2 linked regions of the Homo sapiens genome follow. The protein of the gene in region 1 purifies or fractionates together with the protein of each later gene. This does not show direct contact. Each region holds a gene or a part of one and is shown in the gene's direction. Other genes may lie near its edges.

What was found. The genes of interacting proteins can lie anywhere in the genome.
Region 2: the proteins of SLTM (region 1) and KNOP1 purify together in Homo sapiens (affinity purification with mass spectrometry, with the first as the bait; one large-scale study listed by BioGRID). This does not show direct contact.

What each region holds. Positions count from the first base shown.
Region 1 is NC_000015.10:58,892,180-58,895,679, reverse strand, and holds part of SLTM (SAFB-like transcription modulator), read left to right. Parts: intron 1-1,097; coding exon 1,098-1,247; intron 1,248-1,486; coding exon 1,487-1,590; intron 1,591-1,692; coding exon 1,693-1,859; intron 1,860-2,315; coding exon 2,316-2,401; intron 2,402-2,619; coding exon 2,620-2,783; intron 2,784-3,500. UniProt on the Homo sapiens protein: When overexpressed, acts as a general inhibitor of transcription that eventually leads to apoptosis.
Region 2 is NC_000016.10:19,704,833-19,708,227, reverse strand, and holds part of KNOP1 (lysine-rich nucleolar protein 1), read left to right. Parts: intron 1-1,006; coding exon 1,007-1,318; 3' UTR 1,319-3,395.

The sequences.
Region 1 (3,500 bases):
AAACTATATGAGGATACCATTTATTTGGTAAGAAGACCCGTGGAGTTAAAAAATAAATGGCTATGGAGCAAATCAGCCTTTCCTAGGGTTGAGGTAAAAGTTGATTTGTTCCAGCCACCCATACCATAAAACTCCTGATTTTCCTGTTTACTTCTTCCCAGCTTTATGTCTTTACTCTTCTTTGTTCAGCACCGAATCGTTCTCTCTCTTTTCTTCTCACTCATCCATCCCTGCTTTGTCTCTCTTAACTAACCATCTTACACAATTGCAATTATTTGTCATGTTCATATACGTTTTAAAAGCACATAGATTGAAAGTGTTGTCTTTCAAGCTTTAGGGTGTTTTTCGGGGGATGCATTTTTAAGTCCGCTTTTTTATATGTGATTGGTTCTTTACTCATTATAGAAAAGTGTTAACACTCATCAATAAAATACTAGAAACTTTCTCTAAAGACATTCAGGGTGGGCCTATGATAGGGATATTTTGGTTCAAATCCAATTTATTTGCTTTTATTAATTGTGCCATTACTTCATTGATGAGATTGTGTTTTGGCTACATATTTGAGGGGAGGAAATAAATATAAAAAGGTTAAATTGCTTTTTGGCACTTTAAATTGTTCCCCTGAATATTTACTAAGATGGGTAACGTAGATGGTGATCACAAGAATATGAAATAGGCTGGCTGCAGTGGCTCATGCTTGTAATCCCAGCACTGTGGGAGGCCGAGGTAGGCCGATCACCTGAGGTCAGGCCTTTGAGACCAGCCTGGCCAACATGGCAAAACCCTATCTGTACTAAAAATACAAAACTTAGCAGGGCATGGTGGTGCATGCCTGTAATCCCAGCTACTTGAGAGGCTGAAGGAGGGGAATTGCTTGAACCCAGAAGGCAGAGGTTGCAGTGAGCTGAGATCACACCACTGCACTCCAGCCTGCGTGACAGAGTGTGACTCCATCTCAAAAAAAAAAAAAAAAACATGAGACAGAATAAGATACACCCTGAATTAATATATAGTTTCAGTTGTGAAGTTTCATGTATTTAGAAGTCTGTGTACTTGGAACGTTGTAAAACTCTCTAAAGTACAGTCTGATTTTATAGGTTCTGAGTGCAAAAGTAGTTACAAATGCTCGAAGTCCTGGGGCAAAATGCTATGGCATTGTAACTATGTCTTCAAGCACAGAGGTGTCCAGGTGTATTGCACATCTTCATCGCACTGAGCTGCATGGACAGCTGATTTCTGTTGAAAAAGTAAGCTTCCCTAACTGTTTATCAAAGCAAGTCTAATTTGATGGCTAGTTCTCAACTCATAGCTGTTAACAGTAGCAGGGAGTAGAATTTGCAGTGATTTTTAATTTTTATGTATTTGTAGTTTTTACTCTCCTTATATTTTTCCTATCGTTTCCAAATTTTCTGCCATTAGCACACTTCTTATAATCACAAAAATGTAACCATATGTACAAATTGTTTTTCTGGTTCGAACCTTTCAGGTAAAAGGTGATCCCTCTAAGAAAGAAATGAAGAAAGAAAATGATGAAAAGAGTAGTTCAAGAAGTTCTGGAGATAAAAAAAATACGAGTGATAGAAGTAGCAAGTAAGGATTTATTTTTATTTATTTATTTTGATAAGCAGATAGACTTTTTTGGTACATTATGAAGTACTCATTCTGTTTTTTTGTCTGGGGCGGTATGGTCAGGACACAAGCCTCTGTCAAAAAAGAAGAGAAAAGATCGTCTGAGAAATCTGAAAAAAAAGAAAGCAAGGATACTAAGAAAATAGAAGGTAAAGATGAGAAGAATGATAATGGAGCAAGTGGCCAAACATCAGAATCGATTAAAAAAAGTGAAGAAAAGAAGCGAATAAGTATGCTATACATCTTTTCAATCCCTTTCTAATGCATTCTACTACTTAATTTTTACAGTGGAAGGGAAAACCTGAAATTCTAATCCAGATATAAGCTTTGTTGTTAGGTGTCATTGTGGTAGGAAAGGAGGTCTAGTAGGAGTAATTGTCTTCTTTTCTACTCTGGGGAAACAAACAAATGTATTCTTCCAGCTAAGCTCCTTTGCTATTCTGGGCTGACTTAAAATGGTCATTGATTAGTACTATTGAATTAGGATCTTTTGGTATCACTGAAAGTATTTATGTTAGCAGACTGAACTGTTTAAAAAACTCTTTGCATTGAAGTTCTTGTAGAATAAGTAGTTTTTTTATTTCATGTATTGGTGTGTGACTATCAGAATTTAGCATTTTTACATACATATTTTCTTTCTCAATGAAAAATTTTAGACATTGTTTTATATAATTTTTTTCCCTTAGGTTCCAAGAGTCCAGGACATATGGTAATACTAGACCAAACTAAAGGAGATCATTGTAGACCATCAAGAAGAGGAAGATATGAGAAAGTAAGTCTCTGATCAGGATGGTTGTATACTACTTCAGCTGTTTACAAAAGAAGATAATTCTGTTTTTCCATAACCATCTTTGCGTACTTGCATGCTAGCAAACCCAAGAAAAAGGAAATGTTACTAGTCATTTGAACTTTTTAAATGACCTACTAAACTTGAAAAATAAAGCCCCAAAATATTTTAATTTCTAGTGTTCTTCTAATTTTTTTCTACAGATTCATGGAAGAAGTAAGGAAAAGGAGAGAGCTAGTCTAGATAAAAAAAGAGATAAAGACTACAGAAGGAAAGAGATCTTGCCTTTTGAAAAGATGAAGGAACAAAGGTTGAGAGAACATTTAGTTCGTTTTGAAAGGCTGCGACGAGCAATGGAACTTCGAAGGTAGGAAGAGAGTCTGTTTTATACCTGTCTTTAAATATAGGTAAATATTTAACACTAGTTGTAAGCCATATTTCTGGAAATTGTATTCCCACAGAAAACTGTTTGCCACCTTAAAGAAGTTACGGTAGCATCTAATGATTTCTTAAGTTTGCATAGCACTTTACAATTTACAAAGTGCTTTTCCATCTGTTGTCTCCAACTCAACAGTTCTGTAAGGCTAGTTATGCCCATTATACAATTGAAAAAAATGGAGGCCCAGAGAGGCTAAATGACTCTTCCAATGGCCACATGGCTAACAAGTGGCAGAGTCGGGACTCAGACCCAAGTCTTCTGACTCCAAGTCCAATGCTCTTTCCTCAACACCAAAGCTGCTGCCATAAAAAACATGACTTCAAAGGAAAAATTTGAGATAAGATAGTTTCAAAGTAGCTACAGTGTTCAAATACTGTAATCTGAAATTTTAACAAATTTAGCAAAAATTTATTGTTTGCATTAGTGCCTAAGAGAAGGAAGATTTGCCCTGTGAGCCTAATGGTATTCGGATTATATCCCAAAGCAAGCATTCTCTTTAAAACAAACGGAAAATATAAACAAAGCAAGATGTTTCCATTTTTAGTGGCCATATCTCAACAGTTCACGAGTGTCAGTTTACTTTTGTATATCAATTTTTGGATGCCACTTAAAATAGTCTTGTGGGTGTGTTTTATAGTATATTAT
Region 2 (3,395 bases), on another chromosome or scaffold:
TTGGCTGTGTGACCTTTTACCCCTGTGGGCCCGCACCCGTTCCCGCCATAAAACAGTGCTTCTGAGAAGCACACTTCAGATTCCCACTCGCCCTCTCCCACCCTCCAATTCACCCAAACGTTAGGCTGCTGGGTGAGTGCGCCCGGCTGCTGGGCTGTGGGGTGCCCTGTGTTGCAGGGGAGGTGCGCCCTGTGGGGAGGTGGGGGAGGTGTGCTGTCTTGTGAGATGCATGGTGGGGTGAGGTGCGCTGTGTAGGGAGGTGGGGGGAGGTGCGCTGTATAGGGAGTGGGGGAAGTGCTATGTAGGGAGGTGGGGGAGTGTGCTGTGTAGGGAGGTGGGGGGAGTGCGATGTGTAGGGTGGTGGGGGGAGTGCACTGTGTAGCGTGGTTAGGGGAGGTGCGCTTTGTAGGATGGTAGGGGGAGAGTGTGCTGTGTAGCGTGGTGGGAGGAGGTGCGCCATGTGCGCCGTGTAGGGAGGTGGGGGGAGTGCTCTGTGTAGGGTCGTGGGGGGAGTGTGCTCTGTAGAGTGGTGGGGGAGTGTGCTGTGTAGGGAGGTGGGGGAGGGGAGGTGCACTGTGTAGGGAGGTGGGGGGAAATGCTTAGTGTAGGGTGGTGGGGGGAGTGCGCTGTTGTGAAGTGAGGCACACTGTGCCGTGTGCCATGAGTTAGGAAAGGAGGAGGAAGGCAGAAAGGCAGCTCTGTGCAGAGGTGGGCAGTGGTGTTGGCTGGACCTGGGCTGGAATTCTGGGGGTCACTAGTTAGGTTTCTGTCTCCAGCTAAGCTGCAGACCTCTATTTTCTCCTCTGTGCAATGGGAATAACAACAGTGTTTCTCATAGGGCTGTCTTTAGGATTAACGGAATAATCCGTTGTTGAGCTTATTAGCACTGTGCCTGGTACACAGCAGCCATCTAATCTGCTGGGCCCTCCCTGATGAGGGTGGGGGTCAAGGGAAGGAAAGGGCTTTGAACTCAAGGAAAATAGCCACCTTTTTCCTCTCCTCACAGGGAACCCAGTTTGGCCAGTGGGATACTGCTGGTTTTGAGAACGAGGACCAAAAACTGAAATTTCTCAGACTTATGGGTGGCTTCAAAAACCTGTCCCCTTCGTTCAGCCGCCCCGCCAGCACGATTGCAAGGCCCAACATGGCCCTCGGCAAGAAGGCGGCTGACAGCCTGCAGCAGAATCTGCAGCGGGACTACGACCGGGCCATGAGCTGGAAGTACAGCCGGGGAGCCGGCCTCGGCTTCTCCACCGCCCCCAACAAGATCTTTTACATTGACAGGAACGCTTCCAAGTCAGTCAAGCTGGAAGATTAAACTCTAGAGTTTTGTCCCCCCAAAACTGCCACAATTGCTTTGATTATTCCATTTATGCTGGAGATTACAAATTTTTTTTGTGAAAAAATCAGATCTTGGTGAGGACCTCGAGCAGTAAGATATAAATAACTCCCATAAGCTTAGCGTTCCAGTAATGGAACACTAGGCATAAATGGTTTATTCAGTTGTGCAAATGAAAGCCATCTGACAGTTGGCTCACATTGAACACCTGTGGAGATTAAGGACGAGGACAACTATATTGATGGGCTTGGATGAACTGGGGCAGGGCAGCTCATATTTCGGGAGCCAGGAGAACGAGTGAGTGCTAAAACCTCCTGTTTTCTGTGTTAAACATTCCGTCCCTGTTTGAGACATCAGTATGTACAGTTAACTTTTGTTGAGTGTTTAGCAGGTACTAGGGACATACTAGTGTTTTCCTTAATGTATTTAATCTTCATAATTATGAAATGGGTGCTATTATTAGCCCCATCTTATAGATGAGGCAACTGAGGTTCAGGGATAAAGTAATAAAATTGCCTGGGGTCACCCAGCCACTAAGTGCAGGGTGTTGTACTTTTGTACCCGAAGCCCTAAGTTCACTATTCGCCACTCTGAATGTCCCCTTTAGGGAATTTCCACCAGAATCCTCGTTGGGGATTGAAATGTCTTTAGATGGAGGAAAAAGTTTTATGACAAGTCTGCATCTCTGATAAAAAGTGGAGTGAATGAGGAACGGAGAATCGCAAACTCCTTTTCCTTCCTTTTCCTTTCCCCTGTCATAGAGCAGCTGTAGGCAGAGAGGTGTCTGAGTTGTTACCAAACACATGTGACTGAGCTGCTGCTGCTGGGAAATGTGCCTCTAAACCAGTCCTGCCTTTTCCACTGGTGTCCCTTCGGCCCTAAGTGCTGAGGTAGGATTTTTGTGCTTTGACTGGATTCTGAACAAGGCATTTTAGGAAGAGTGGTTAGTCCCGCAAATGAATCAATGGCAGATCCCAGGGACGTGTGTGTGTGTTTTGAGATAGGCTCTCACTCTGTCACCCAGGCTGGAGTGTAGTGGCATATCACGGCTTGTTGCAACCACTACCTATCCAGCTTAAGTGATCCTCCCACCTCAGCCTCCCAAGTAGCTGGGACTGTGGGTGTGCACCACAACAACCAGCTAGTGTTTAAAATTTTTTGTAGAGATGGGGTCTCACTATATTGTCCAGGCTAGTCCCAAACTCCTGGACTCAACTCATGCTCCTGCCTCAGCCCCCAAGAGCTGGGATCACAGGTGTGAGCCACTGTGCCCAGCCCCAGGGATGTGTCTGATGAGATTCTTTTTTATCACAAGGAAGAGAATCCCAGGTGACTTCTGTAGGTGGATATTGAATGCCAGGAGGAGATGAACGTGTGGAGATGACACGGGAAGTTGCCTCATCGGCTGTGGGGACAGCGTTTCCAAGCCTGGACTCTACAGCAAGCCTCAAAGAGCTCCAGGTCCAGTGGCCCAAGTCGCATGTGACCATCTGTGACCACCTTCTTTCCACTCACCTAGCTTTTTGCATCCCAAAATACAGGTTCTGACTGGGACATTTTCACGATCGTTTGGCCTGAACATGCCTCCTACAGACATCCCAGCCCAGGCAGGCCTCGATGGCCAGAAAGTTCAGTCTCACGTGGCAGGAAGGCCTGATTAGGGCCTGGTTCAACAGCTCGCCAAGGAAGCATTCTCTCCATCATCTCCAGTGTTGGCTTCATCAAGGCTAGTACAAAGATGGCAGTAACAGTTCCAGGCAGCATATCAAGACCCTAGAACATTCCAGAGGAAGAAAAGCCTTTTTGTGTCTCAAGGAAACTTCCAGAAGCCTCCATTGCTGGGCAATGAGTCATCTGCCCATAGCTGCACCCGCCCCTGTCATGGGAAGGCTGGTGATTCCCTTCAGTCAAGAAGAGTGGATGCTGGTGAAGTGGCCATGGTGTCCACAGCTGCCCATTGGGCAGAGGTGAGGCAGGCACTTCAGGCAGTTTCCCTGGCTCTGAACCCTGATCCGCAAGCATTGGCCAGGTCAATAGTTGGACAAGTATGTGCTAC